3 separate regions of the Homo sapiens genome follow, and regions 1 and 3 are each linked to region 2. The links come from fine-mapping of genetic effects on gene expression. A gene starts in region 2. Each other region holds a variant in brackets. All regions are shown on one strand. Distances are from middle to middle. Region 1 holds the start of GPR146 (G protein-coupled receptor 146). Region 2 holds the start of COX19 (cytochrome c oxidase assembly factor COX19). Region 3 overlaps ADAP1 (ArfGAP with dual PH domains 1).

The links. PIP is the estimated chance that this variant, and not a neighbour inherited with it, causes the effect.
Region 1: its variant is fine-mapped to the expression of COX19 in whole blood (INTERVAL, PIP 0.99).
Region 3: its variant is fine-mapped to the expression of COX19 in whole blood (TOPMed, PIP above 0.99).

What each region holds. Positions count from the first base shown.
Region 1 is chr7:1,043,550-1,047,677 of GRCh38, reverse strand. The region is part of intron 2 of CHLSN (cholesin); the gene reads left to right. GPR146 (G protein-coupled receptor 146) reads right to left here and starts at 3,132. Exons shown (of 2, transcript NM_001303473.2): 1 at 3,020-3,132. RefSeq lists silencers at 2,633-2,682, 2,863-3,352 and an enhancer at 3,458-4,013. The variant T/AT (reference allele first, on the strand shown) is at 1,594.
Region 2 is chr7:973,462-977,570 of GRCh38, reverse strand. COX19 (cytochrome c oxidase assembly factor COX19) reads left to right here and starts at 2,022. Exons shown (of 3, transcript NM_001031617.3): 1 at 2,022-2,143. The coding sequence starts at 2,062. RefSeq lists enhancers at 1,036-1,916, 2,548-2,617, 1,917-2,799 and silencers at 1,848-2,127, 2,148-2,307.
Region 3 is chr7:942,177-946,304 of GRCh38, reverse strand. The region is part of intron 1 of ADAP1 (ArfGAP with dual PH domains 1); the gene reads left to right. Among named protein-coding and RNA genes, the nearest start is that of ADAP1, 10 kb to the left of the region's middle. RefSeq lists enhancers at 358-652, 1-1,080, 490-1,404. The variant A/G (reference allele first, on the strand shown) is at 2,163.

The DNA of each region.
Region 1 (4,128 bases), 70 kb before region 2:
CCTGGCCGAACCTGCCATGCACCATGAGACGCTCAACCTTGGGTGAATATTCTAGAACAATCAAAATGCTTTCAAAATGACTCTGGAATGTTTATTTTCTTTTGTAGTAATGAACCCAGGCTTTAGCAACAATTAACATCCAGCTCCTAGGAGCCAGATGCTTAGGAAAGGCTGCTGTTTTCACAGGGTTTCCACGTGGAGAGCTTACGCACACTGATTCCTATCTGTGCCTTCCTGGGCTGTGATAAGAAATGGTTCATTACATAGGTGGATGGTTTTGATTTTTGTAGCCTTTTGCTTTTTACAATTCCAAACTGCAGAGTAGTGAGAGTGAATCAGGTGACTTGGCTTAGACTATAAACAAAGAGAATGCCTCTCTTTTTCCATGGATAATAGCGAGCATGTTTGCGGCTCCAGGACGGGCTCTGGGGGCCTGAGACCAAGCACCTTGCTGGGCCAGTGAGCGGGCTGGGCACCTGTGCCTGCAGCTATGGGCGCCAGTTCCCTGGAGGAAGGTGGAACAGCATTCTTTTGTTTACTTGGCTTTTTGTTCCCTAACTGGGTGTGAGGCTAATTCCCTCTCCAGGTACATCAGACCAGGGAAAAACAAAAACAAACAAAAAAGACTTCCTCAGAAATTCAAAGACATGGCCAAGAACAGAGAGTCTCTACTGCAGACTCTGGGCAGGCTTGGCACCTGCCGGGGCTCCTCAGTCGAGCCCCGGTTTACTAGGCGTGGCCTTAACCTGCAGGGAAGTGCTCTGAGCCGCAGATCTTATCACCACCTTGGTTGTTTCCCAGGGAGGAGCCAGCAGGTTATTTCTCCTCATCACACTAGCTGTGGTAGCGACAGTGGTCTGCAAGGCTTGCTTTGGTTCCAATTAAAATGGGGAAAGTCCTTGGCCTTTGCAGGAAGGGACCTGGGTGTGGCTCTGTGGGGATGAACAGACACCTGCCCCACCTCCACCTTGTCCCTCTGCTGCTCAAGGGGGTATTTTGTTTGCACACGGAGGCTCCTGGGTAGACAGCACGCTCCTAAGAAACTGACTTCTGGTCCCGGGCAGCATCTCATTTTGGGATCTCAAATTGGAGCGAAACGTTATTCTACTCTCCAGACTGGGTTCCCTGTCCTCTTGGCTACCTGGATGGTGTCTTGGGGTCCTGAGCCTTTGAGACCCCTGGACAGATGTGGGCTAACTGGACAGCCTAATGCTGGTCAGTTGGGCAGGTGGGTTAGTGAAAGCCCTGGAGAGCAGAGGAGCTGGCAGGCAGGAGGGAATGGCTGGGAAACACTGTTGACAGAAAACAGCACCGTGGGATCGTCGTGTGCATGACACGGTCGGCCGGGTTCTCTGGGTGATAATTTCCTTCTGCAAAGGCAAGACCTCGCTGTGGTTGGGTCATTAAAGGCCAGGCGGCAGTTATTTTTTCAGGATTCCAGGTGACATCCTAGGGGCTGTGAGAGCTGCAGCTCCCTGAGGAGCCCCTTCTTCTCCCTGCCCCAGTGAGCAGCATGTCCCTCTTCCGACTGTAAATTACACGAGCATATTTCCCCATGCAGCGATCTGTGCAGTATGCCATTGATTCATTGTA[T/AT]GATAGACATAATCAGCCTTTACATCCTAACCTAAGACCCACATGAGGTGCGCGCCCTTTGCCCTTCTCTCTTCATCAGCCTACTGGGGCTTATGAGTTGCAGGGACTCCAAGTCAACTTTCACATTTACATTCTGCCCTAAATCTGTGTTCCTCTGTCCTCCATCCTCAGGATATGTCCATGCTGGCTAGAGAGGCAGGATGACACGTGGACGCCAGCACGGATGTGTGTGGCGTCGGGCAGTGAGCTGCTCTGGCCCCGACCTCTTCTCTGTGAAAAGGCACAACAGTATTCAATACATATAAACTATGTTCTTAAGTCACTTGTCTTCAGAGGCCTTCTTCATTGAGGAAGACAACAGGGGTTCTGGTTGGGGAGCCAGGCCTTACAGTAGTTCTTGAAGGAGCTGCACAGCAGGTCATGGGTACTGTGAGTGTGCACTTCGTCTAATTATTAACAGTGCCTCCGTTCACTCTCAACGGTGCCCCAGTTAGGACGGTAGACTATCTCATCACCACTATGCGTGAGGAGCCTGGGAACATGGTCAGAACCATTTTACTCATACAAGTTTGCAGAGGCCTTTAAAGCAAGCCTCTTGGCCCTCTGTTATTGAATGCTGGCCTCTGCTAGGTGCTGCAGGTAGCAAAAGATAAAAGATGTCGTGCTGTTCCGTGTGGACAGGAGCTGGCTATTTAAAGTGGAATGGAGGACTCAAGTACATCTTCATGGGCAGGGAAGAGATCAAAGGCTGTGGACGACGAATACAGAATTATCCTCTGGTCCACCACGTAGCATGCATGCAGAGATAAGCCACTGTGACCAGTCACATCAAGATTCATAGACTTATGCCTAATTTAGAGAACTGACTTGCCAGGTTTGTAATACTAACTTAATAGTGGGTTTTCTGCTGCTGGTAGTGGTGGTTTGGCGGCTGGAGAGCACTGCCTTCCAGTGAAGCTTTGAAAGAGCCGTCCCATGCCCTGCCAACTGTCCAAGACAACTGACAGCAGATCCGACACCTCCATGTAGACACAGATCCAAAACTCACTTTAAAATACTAATCACAGAAGGGGCCGAAAGCAGTCACCATAGTGGCCCAGGAGAGCAGGATCAGTGGTGCCCTGTCGGACATGGGAGAGCCGGTGGCGGCGCTGTGCCGCCTACGCCAGCAGCAGATTCAGCTGCCATCACCAGGTTAATGACCGAAAGCCCGCCCCCGGGGCTCAGCTCGGAGCGCGGCCGGAGGACAGCGGTCCCCTCCTGGCAAGGGCACGGAGCCCCGCAGTGGGCAGCGGCCAGAGGACCCGGGTCCCAGTAAGCGCAGCGCCCGCCGTGGGAGCCACAGCAGCTTGGGGCTGGCTCCCTCCCCAGGCGGAGACTGGGGTGTGCCCCACCGACCCGACCCAGGCTCCCGGGCCCCACTCACCGGCTTGCTGGGCGGCGGCCGGCGCAGTCGCCGCCGGGCGGGCAGCTCGGGCTGGCGGAGGCGGCGGGGCTCACGGCGCGCACGCCGCCCGGGCCCTGTGTACACACGTGACCGTCGGCCCCGCCCCCGGCCGGCGAGCGGCAGCCATGCCTGGCCCCGCCCCCAGCCTTGGTCCCGCCCTGGCCTCCGCCCCCCGGCCCCGCCCTCGCGGCTAGACCGCGGGGAACCGCTCGGACCAGTGAGGTTGGGGGGCGGTGGCGGTGGAGGCAGTGCTGGTTGTGTAACCTGAGACCAGCCATTTGACGAACTCGTGCGAGATTCCCTGTGGGAGGACACACACCCAGGGCTCTGGGAGTTTTTGAGAATTCTCTTAGTGCCCAGCGCGGTTTCTTTTTACAGGCGCTGGTGCCTATTTTGCTGAGTCAGAATATACCCTAATCTGCAGGGTGCAGGCCCCACCGCCCTCCAAAGGAAATGAGTGGCTGCAAGTTAGTCCTTCCAGGTACACCTGCCCCTCTTTCTTCACCGAAGTTTGCTTGCTGTTTCCAAAGTCACCAATTACTTCCTGGTTTTAGGATTTTCTTTGTAAACGGAACACTCACAGGAAAGCCGTTTAAAGAAACACATTGCTGCCTGATTACTTTTGTAGCTATTGTTACAAGTTAAACATTGGAAAAGTTGAAACAAGGACATTTACTTTGCTGTAATTTTTGAGGTGAAACAGTCCCCCCTGCAGCACATTCTGGTTCAGGATCTAAGAACATTTCTGAAAATCAAAGCATGTGGGTTGCACAGTTCCGCATAGACTTGCTGTGAGCTGCGGGCCGAGTGGAACACCAGCAGGAAGAATAGCGGCCACTGGCCCTCCGCTGCATGATGCTGTGGCCTACTGTGTTCAGGGATGTACCTCAGCCACCTTCCTGGACAGGACGGCTTCCTGACCGTGGGTCGGAGTGGGACGTCGGGATCAGCTTTCTATTCCAGCGGGAGGGCAGGGAGAGGCTCACCACGGCCCACGCCTGCTGATGTGATACTGACTTGCTGCCCAGCCCGGCACCAGGTCCCTGGCACAGTGGATGCAGCCCGGGCCCTGTGTGCCCAGAGGTGCC
Region 2 (4,109 bases):
CAGGCCCCGGGGTGGGGGCTGTTGGGCCGCCTTGACCAAGCCCTTGTCTGCAAACAACCCCTGGGAAGTTGCAGGAACTGGCTCCTAAGCAACAGTGGGTTCAGGTGTCACCAGGGTCCAGAGCGGGGGGCCAGGCAGCGAACTCGGTGTTGCTGGGGACCCACTGTGCTTACCACGAAGGCCTGGCCAGTGATTGTGAAATGGGTGGGATGGATGAGTGAGTGGAGGCTGGAGCTTGGGCCGCCCATGGTGCTCTAAACGGGCCAGTGTTCGACTTCCTCATGGCCAGGGCATGTGGGTACAGGTTCAGGGCTGGGAGAGACTCCGCGGGTGGACGCTGGGGTCTTCACTGAGCCCTTTCCCACGACTGCTGTTGCCATGACAACATCGACACGCAAAGGCCGGGCCTTACCGCTTACAGTACACTTTCATTCTGCCCTAGGTTGAGCTGTAACTACCCTCCACCCCCATTCGTATGGTGAAGCCACTAGGACCTTAGGATGTGACCTTTGCTTTGGAAATAGGTGCCAGGTGCGGCGGCTCACGCCTGTCATCCCAGCCCTTTGGGAGGCTGAAGTGGGCGGATCACTTAAGGTCAGGAGTTCGAGACCAGCCTGGGCAACATGGTGAAACCCCGTCTCTACGAAAAGTACAAAAAATTAGCCGGGTGTGGTGGCGCATGCCTGTAATCCCAGCTACTCTGGAGGCTGAGGCAGGAGAATCTCTTGAACTCGGGAAGTGGAGGTTGCGGTGAGCCGAGATCGTACCACTGCACGCCCGTCTAGGTTACAAAGTGAGACTCTGTGTTGAAAAAAAATATATTAGCTTAGCTGGGTGTGTTGGTGGCGCCTGTAATCCCAGCTACTCGGGAGGCTGAGGCAGGAGAATTGCTTTAACCTGGGAGGTGGAGGTTGCAATGAGCCAGGATCGAGCCACTGTACTCCAGCCTGGGCAACAAGAGAGAGACTCCGTTTTAAAAAACAAAACAAAGAAATAGGGTTGCTGCTGATATAATTAGTTAAGATGAAGTTATTGGGACGGCCCCTAACCCAACATGACTGCTATCCTTATAAAAAGAGGAAATTTAGGTTGGGCATGGTGGCTCATGCCTATAATCCCGGCATTTAGGGAGGCTGAGGCAGGAGGATTGCCTGAGCCCAGGAGTTAAGGACCAGCCTGGGCAACATAGGGAGACTCCATCTCTACGAAAAATAGAAAAATTAGCCTGGTGTGGTGGTGTGTGCCTGTGGTCGCAGCTACTCAGGAGGCTGGGGTGAGAGGATCGCTGAGCCCAGGAGGTCGAGGCTGCAGTGAGTCGTGATCATGCCACTGCACTCTAGTCTGGGCAACAGAGCAATACCCTGTCTCAAATAAATAAATAAAAATAGTAAATTTGGACATGCGCAGGACACCATGGGAACGTAGGGGCCGAGACCAGGTGGTGCTTCTGCAAGCCAAGGAACCTCACAGGCTGGCGGCCCCCAGAAGCTGGGAGGCTGGGACTGTCCCCAGGGCCCCCACTCTGCCCACTGCTTGGACTCCAGACCCCAGGACTGAGAGCACATTCCTGTTGTTGAAGCTGCTCGGTGGTGTCACCTGGCTCCAGCAGCCGCAGGCAGCGAGTCCACAGGCTCTCCTGTCCCTCCTGTGCCGCCTTCCTCCCCGGATGGGCCCCGTGATGAGGTCTCTGTGCGATGGGGAAACCGAGGCCCCAGCAGACACCTGGGATGCAGAGACGCCGGCACCGCTATGTGTCCTCGGGCAATTCGCTGAACCTTTCTGGGCCTCGGTTTCTCACCAATTCCAAAAGCTGATTCTGCTACCGACTGCTGTGAGGGTCCCAGGGGACGGGAAAGCCCGGGCAGCGCCCACCGGGGCTCAGGAGCTTGCTGACTCCGAGGGGGTGGGGCCGGGCCTGGGCAAGGGGTGGGGCCGGGCCTGGGCAAGGGGCGGGGACGGGGCCTGCTCGACGTGCTCGGCGCTCCCGGGGTGCCTGCTCGGCGCTCCGCCGGCCGCCCTGCGTACGCTCGCAAGGCGCTCGCAGACTCCGGAGTCGCCAACATGTCGACCGCCATGAATTTCGGGACCAAGAGCTTCCAGCCGCGGCCCCCGGACAAGGGCAGCTTCCCGCTGGATCACTTAGGTGAGCGGCGGAAGGTCGGCGGGCAGGGGTCTGCGATGGGGGGTCTGGGTCGCGGCCCAGCGCGGAGCCCTATGGGGTGCCGGCATCTAGCGCGGTGCAGGCGGGGAAACTGAGGCACGGCGGCCCGCCCCTCCGCCCCACCCAGCCCTGGGTCACTGCTGCGGCATGGACCCTGCAGGTGGGAGCTGGCAGGACCGTGGCCCCCGTGACGAGGGCAGCGACACCGACTCCTTGCGTCAGGCTTCCGGGTCTCCGGCTCCGCCCTGACTCACCCGGCGGGCTGTCTGTGCCCCGGGTTTGCAGAGCGGGGCATTCGGCGGCCACGAAGCCCGCAGCTGCAGCCGAGGCTTAGACGGTGCCTAGCGATGTCTGCTGCAAAGCTCAAAAGTGCTGCTGATCTCCCAGTGCTTCTGGCCGTATTCCGGTGGGGTTGCCTCCGTGGACATGAAGGCTTCGAAAAAGGATCTGTGGGCCGGGCGCGGTGGCTCATGCCTGTGATCCCAGCCCTTTGGGAGGCCGAGGTGGGCGGATCATTTAAGATCAGGAGTTCGAGACCAGCCTGCCCAACATGGGGAAACCCCGTCTCTACTAAAAATACAAAAATTAGTTGGGTGTGATGTGGCTCGCCTGTAGTCCCAGCTACTCGGGAGGCTGAGGCAGGAGAATCGCTTGAACCGGGAGACGGAGGTTGCAGTGAGCCGAGATCGGGCCACTGCACTGCAGCTTGGGCGACAGAGTGAGACAACGTCTCAAAAAAAAAAAGAAAGAAAAGAAAAGAAAAACGATCTGTGAATTACTGTTTCTTTCCCAACATTTTATTGTGACATTTTCAAATAGCAAAAATGAAAGAATTTTTACCCTGAACTCTCCTGTGACCATCACCTACATTGCACCTTAACCTCGTACTGGGCTGACTTTACCTCGTTGTGGGTTTTTTCCATTGTTGTTTTCAGCATGTTTATGAAGGAAACAAGTTTGGGTTTGATTGTTTTTGTTTTGAGACACGGTCTCACTCTGTTGCTTAGGCTGGAGTGCAGTGGTGCAATCATAGCTCACTGAAGCCTCGGCCTCCTTCCTTTCTGGACTCAGGGGAGTCTCCCGTCTCATCCTCTAGAGTAGCTGGGACTATAGGTGTGCAGCGCCACACCCAGCTAATTTTTTTTTTTTTTTTTTTTTTAGAGATGGGGTTTCCCCATGTTGCCCAGGCTGGATTATTTATTTATTTATTTTTGAAATGGACTCTCACTGTGTCGCCCAGGCTGGAGTGCAGTGGTGTGATCTCGACTCACTGCAACCTCCTCCTCCCGGGTTCAAGCGATTCTCCTGTCTCAGCCTCTAGAGTAGCTGGGACTATAGGTGTGCAACACCACACCCAGCTAATTATTATTGTTTTTTTATTTTTTATTTTAAAGATGGAGTTTCCCCATGTTGACCAGGCTGGATCATTTATTTATTTATTTTTGAAATGGAGTCTCACTCTGTCACCCAGGCTGGAGTGCAGTGGTGTGATCTCGACTCGCTGCAACCTCCGCTTCCTGGGTTCAAGCAATTCTCCTGCCTCAGCCTCCCGAGTAGCTGGGACTACAGACACCCGCCACCATGCCCGGCTAATTTTTGTATTTTTAATAGAGATGGGGTTTCACCAAGTTGGCCGAGCTGGTCTTGAACTCCTGACCTCAGGTGATCCGCCCACCTCTGCCTCCCAAAGTGCTAGGATTACAGGCGTGAGCCACCGTGCCCAGCCTGGATTATTTTTAGGAGACAAGGTCTTGATCTGTTGCCCAGGCTGGAGTGCAGTGGTGTGATCAAGCTCACTGCAGCCTCGAAATCCTTTGCTCAAGCGATCTTCCTGCCTCAGCCTCCTGAGTAGCTGGAACCACAGACGTGCGCCACACCTAGCTAACTTTTAAGGTTTTTTTTGGTAGAGATGGGGGTCTCACTGTGTTGCCCAGGCTGGTCTCAAACT
Region 3 (4,128 bases), 31 kb after region 2:
ACCCAGGAGCTCCAGAGGTCACTGCCTCGCTGGCGGGGATCCACCGGCCGGCGGGAGCCTGGATCCCTGCAGGGGCCACGGGTAACTGGGAGACAATATGCGGAAAACACGGAGGTGGAGTTGGAGAGGGGCCTGGGTCCCGGCGTGGAGTGGGGCGCTGTGTGCCTGGGGGACAGCCATGCATGCCCCGCCTCACGTAGCTGTGAAGGGTGGTGGGCACCGGAGCCCCTCCCACAAGGGCACCCTCCCACCTCGGCTGCCCCTTGCGTGCCTGGCCAGAGCCAGCGTCCGACCCGGCCTCGATTGCACCGGGATCTCTGCTGTGCGTCAGCCTTGGGAGGGCAAAGGTCTCTGGAACCAGGGCCCCATGGACAGGCTTGGCTACTGCCCTTCCCCCTGCCCGTGCCCCAGCCTGGGCCTTGGCTTGGGGGACACGCCTGCCCCACCTGGCTCCGCCCAAGAATGTGGCTCACCTGCCCAGGTGCCCCAGACCAGCTCCGGAAATGGTGAGCGGCTGAGTCACCTCGGGCGTCCTGGGAGCAGGTAGGGCAGAGCGGGGCTGGGAGGAGGGAGGGAAAGAGGCTGGCGGCTGTGGGCAGTCTCCGAGGAGGAGGCAGCTCCTGGAGACGGTGCTGGCAGCCTGGATGTTTGTGGGGGCTGGAGTCTTGGGCCTGCCCCTCCCTACCTGGCACTCAGGGCCTCCATCTCCACCACCACATCAGCCATGCCGCAGCCACCCTTGGGCCCAGTGTGTACCTGCTGGCCTTGTGGCCTGTTCTGGGGGCACCACAGGCCGTGGGTGCTGACTCCAGGCATTTTGGAACAAAATTCCACAGTCCTGGGAACCCAGAAGTGGTCCTGGGCAGAAGCAGGGCCGGCCCCACGGTTCAGTGCCCCGAGTGGAGGGGGCAGCTGGAGTGCAGCCCAGGCTTAGGGAGAGGCTCTCCTGCGTGGGCCTGTGGGGGCCCTGCTGCTGGGGCGTCAGACCAGCTCCCCTTCCACCCTGGAGGGTCTCTGAGAGTGCGTGCCCCGCCCCTTTTCGCTCCGATGGGCTGCGGGCATTTGCGGATGCAGGCAGGCCTGGCCATGCCCAGCAGCCTGAGAAGGAGGCCTGCCCAGCCCAGCCTCAGTCACTTGGAAAACAGAAGGGTCAGCCCGTCCCTTCTGCCTTGGGGACCAGCCAGGCTTTTTCCTTACTGGAAGCTGGGGGACTCTAGCTCCCCATCTCCTTGCACACACACACACCTGCACACACACACGTGAGCCCACCCTGCAGAGCTTCAGCATACTCAAATCAGAAGGCCACCTTCTATTTCAGTGCCTTCAAGGGCTTCCGAGGTCACTCTCCCAGAGACCAGAGGCCTTAAGACATCGCCCAGAGTCACCCAGAGTCACCCCCCCGGGCTCTTCCCTCCCAGGGTCTGAATCTTTCTTTAAAACAGAGTCTCAGGGTGGGTAGAGTGGGGATGGTTAATGGGTACAAAGAATAGAATAAGATCTAGTATTTGATATCACAACAGGGTGACGATTGTCAACAATAATTTATTGTACTTTTAAAAATGACTAAAAGAGTGTAATTGGATTGTTTGTAACACAAAGAAATGATACACGCTTGAGGTGATGGGTGCCGTGTTTGCCGTGATGTGATTATTTCACATTGCATGCCTGTAGCAAAATGTCTTGTGGACCCCATAAATATATACACCTCTTATGTACCCACAAAAATTAAAGATTAAAAATTGTTAAAAATAGGCCGGGCTCGGTGGCTCAGGCCTATAATCCCAGAACTCTGGGAGGCCGAGGTGGGCGGATCACCTGAGGTCAGGAGTTTGAGACCAGCCTGGCCAACATGGTGAACCCCGTCTCTATTAAAAATACAAAAATTAGCCAGGCATGGTGGCGGGCGCCTGTAATCCCAGCTACTTGGGAGGCTGAGACAGGAGAATTGCTTGAACCCGAGAGGCAAAGGTTGCAGTGAGCCAAGATTGCACCACTGCACTCCAGCCTGGGTGATAGAGTGAGACTCTGTCTCAAAAAAAAAAAAAAAAAGGTTAAAAATATAAAGAAAAATAAATAAAACAGGGACTTGGTTAGGCGAAGTGGCTCATGCCTGTAATCCCAGCACTTTGGGAGGCTGAGGTGGAAGGACTGCTTGAGCCCAG[A/G]AGTTAGAGACCAGCCTGGGCAATATAGCAATACCTTGTTTCTACAAAAAGTTTTTTAAAGTAGCTGGGTATGGTGGTGCGCACCTGTAGTCCCAGCTACTCAGGAGGCTGAGGCGGGAGGATCACTTGAATCCAGGAGGTCGAGGCTGCAGTGAGCCATGATTGCCTCACTGCACTCAAGCCTGGGCAACAGAGCAAGACCCTGTCTCAATAATAATAATAATAGTAATAATTCTGATGAGGTCAATTTCTCTCTTTCTCCTCTTCTCTCTCTTCCTCCTCCTCTCTCCCTTCCTCCTCCTCCCTTCCTCCTCCTCTCTCCCTTCGTCCTCCTCTCTCCCTTCCTCCTCCTCCCTTCCTCCTCCTCTCTCCCTTCGTCCTCCTCTCTCCCTTCCTCCTCTCTCCCTTCCTCCTCTCTCCCTTCCTCCTCTCTCCCTTCCTCCTCGCTCCCTTCCTCCTCCTCTCTTCCTCCTCCTCATTCCCTTCCTCCTCACTCCCTTCCTCCTCCTCTCTCCCTTCCTCCTCCTCTCTCCCTTCCTCCTCCTCTCTCCCTTCCTCATCCTCTCTCCCTTCCTCCTCTCTCCCTTCCTCCTCCTCCCTTCCTCCTCCTCTCTCCCTTCGTCCTCCTCTCTCCCTTCCTCCTCTCTCCCTTCCTCCTCTCTCCCTTCCTCCTCTCTCCCTTCCTCCTCGCTCCCTTCCTCCTCCTCTCTTCCTCCTCCTCATTCCCTTCCTCCTCACTCCCTTCCTCCTCCTCTCTCCCTTCCTCATCCTCTCTCCCTTCCTCCTCTTCCTCCTCCTCCCTTCCTCCTCCTCTCTCCCTTCCTCCTCCTCTCTCCCTTCGTCCTCCTCTCTCCCTTCCTCCTCCTCTCTCCCTTCCTCCTCCTCTCCCTTCCTCCTCCTCTCTCCCTTCCTCCTCCTCTCTCTTCCTCCTCCTCACTCCCTTCCTCCTCCTCTCTCCCTTCCTCATCCTCTCTCCCTTCCTCCTCCTCTCTTCCTCCTACTCTCTCTTCCTCCTCCTCACTCCCTTCCTCCTCCTCTCTCCCTTCCTCATCCTCTCTCCCTTCCTCCTCTTCCTCCTCCTCCCTTCCTCCTCGTCTCTCCCTTCCTCCTCCTCCCTTCCTCCTCCTCTCTCCCTTCCTCCTCCTCTCTTCCTCCTACTCTCTCTTCCTCCTCCTCACTCCCTTCCTCCTCCTCTCTCTTCCTCCTCCTCACTCCCTTCCTCCTCCTCTCTCCCTTCCTCATCCTCTCTCCCTTCCTCCTCTTCCTCCTCCTCCCTTCCTCCTCCTCTCTCCCTTCGTCCTCCTCTCTCCCTTCCTCCTCCTCCCTTCCTCCTCCTCTCTCCCTTCCTCATCCTCTCTCCCTTCCTCCTCTTCCTCCTCCTCCCTTCCTCCTCCTCTCTCCCTTCCTCCTCCTCTCTCCCTTCGTCCTCCTCTCTCCCTTCCTCCTCCTCCCTTCCTCCTCCTCTCTCCCTTCCTCATCCTCTCTCCCTTCCTCCTCTTCCTCCTCCTCCCTTCCTCCTCCTCTCTCCCTTCCTCCTCCTCTCTCCCTTCCTCCTCCTCTCTCCCTTCCTCCTCCTCTCTTCCTCCTACTCTCTCTTCCTCCTCCTCACTCCCTTCCTCCTCCTCTCTCCCTTCCTCATCCTCTCTCCCTTCCTCCTCTTCCTCCTCCTCCCTTCCTCCTCCTCTCTCCCTTCCTCCTCCTCTCTCCCTTCCTCCTCCTCTCTCCCTTCCTCCTCCTCTCTCCCTTCCTCCTCCTCTCTCCCTTCCTCCTCCTCCTCTCTCTTCCTCTTCCTCTCTCCCTTCCTCCTCCTCTCTCCCTTCCTCCTCCTCTCTTCCTCCTCCTCCTCTCTCTTCCTCCTCCTCTCTCTCTCAGTGGATTCTGCCTTTGGTGTTGTATCTGAAAAAAATCTTTGCCTAACCCAAAGTTACGGAGACTTTTCTCCTGTTTTCTTTTAAAATTGTATGGC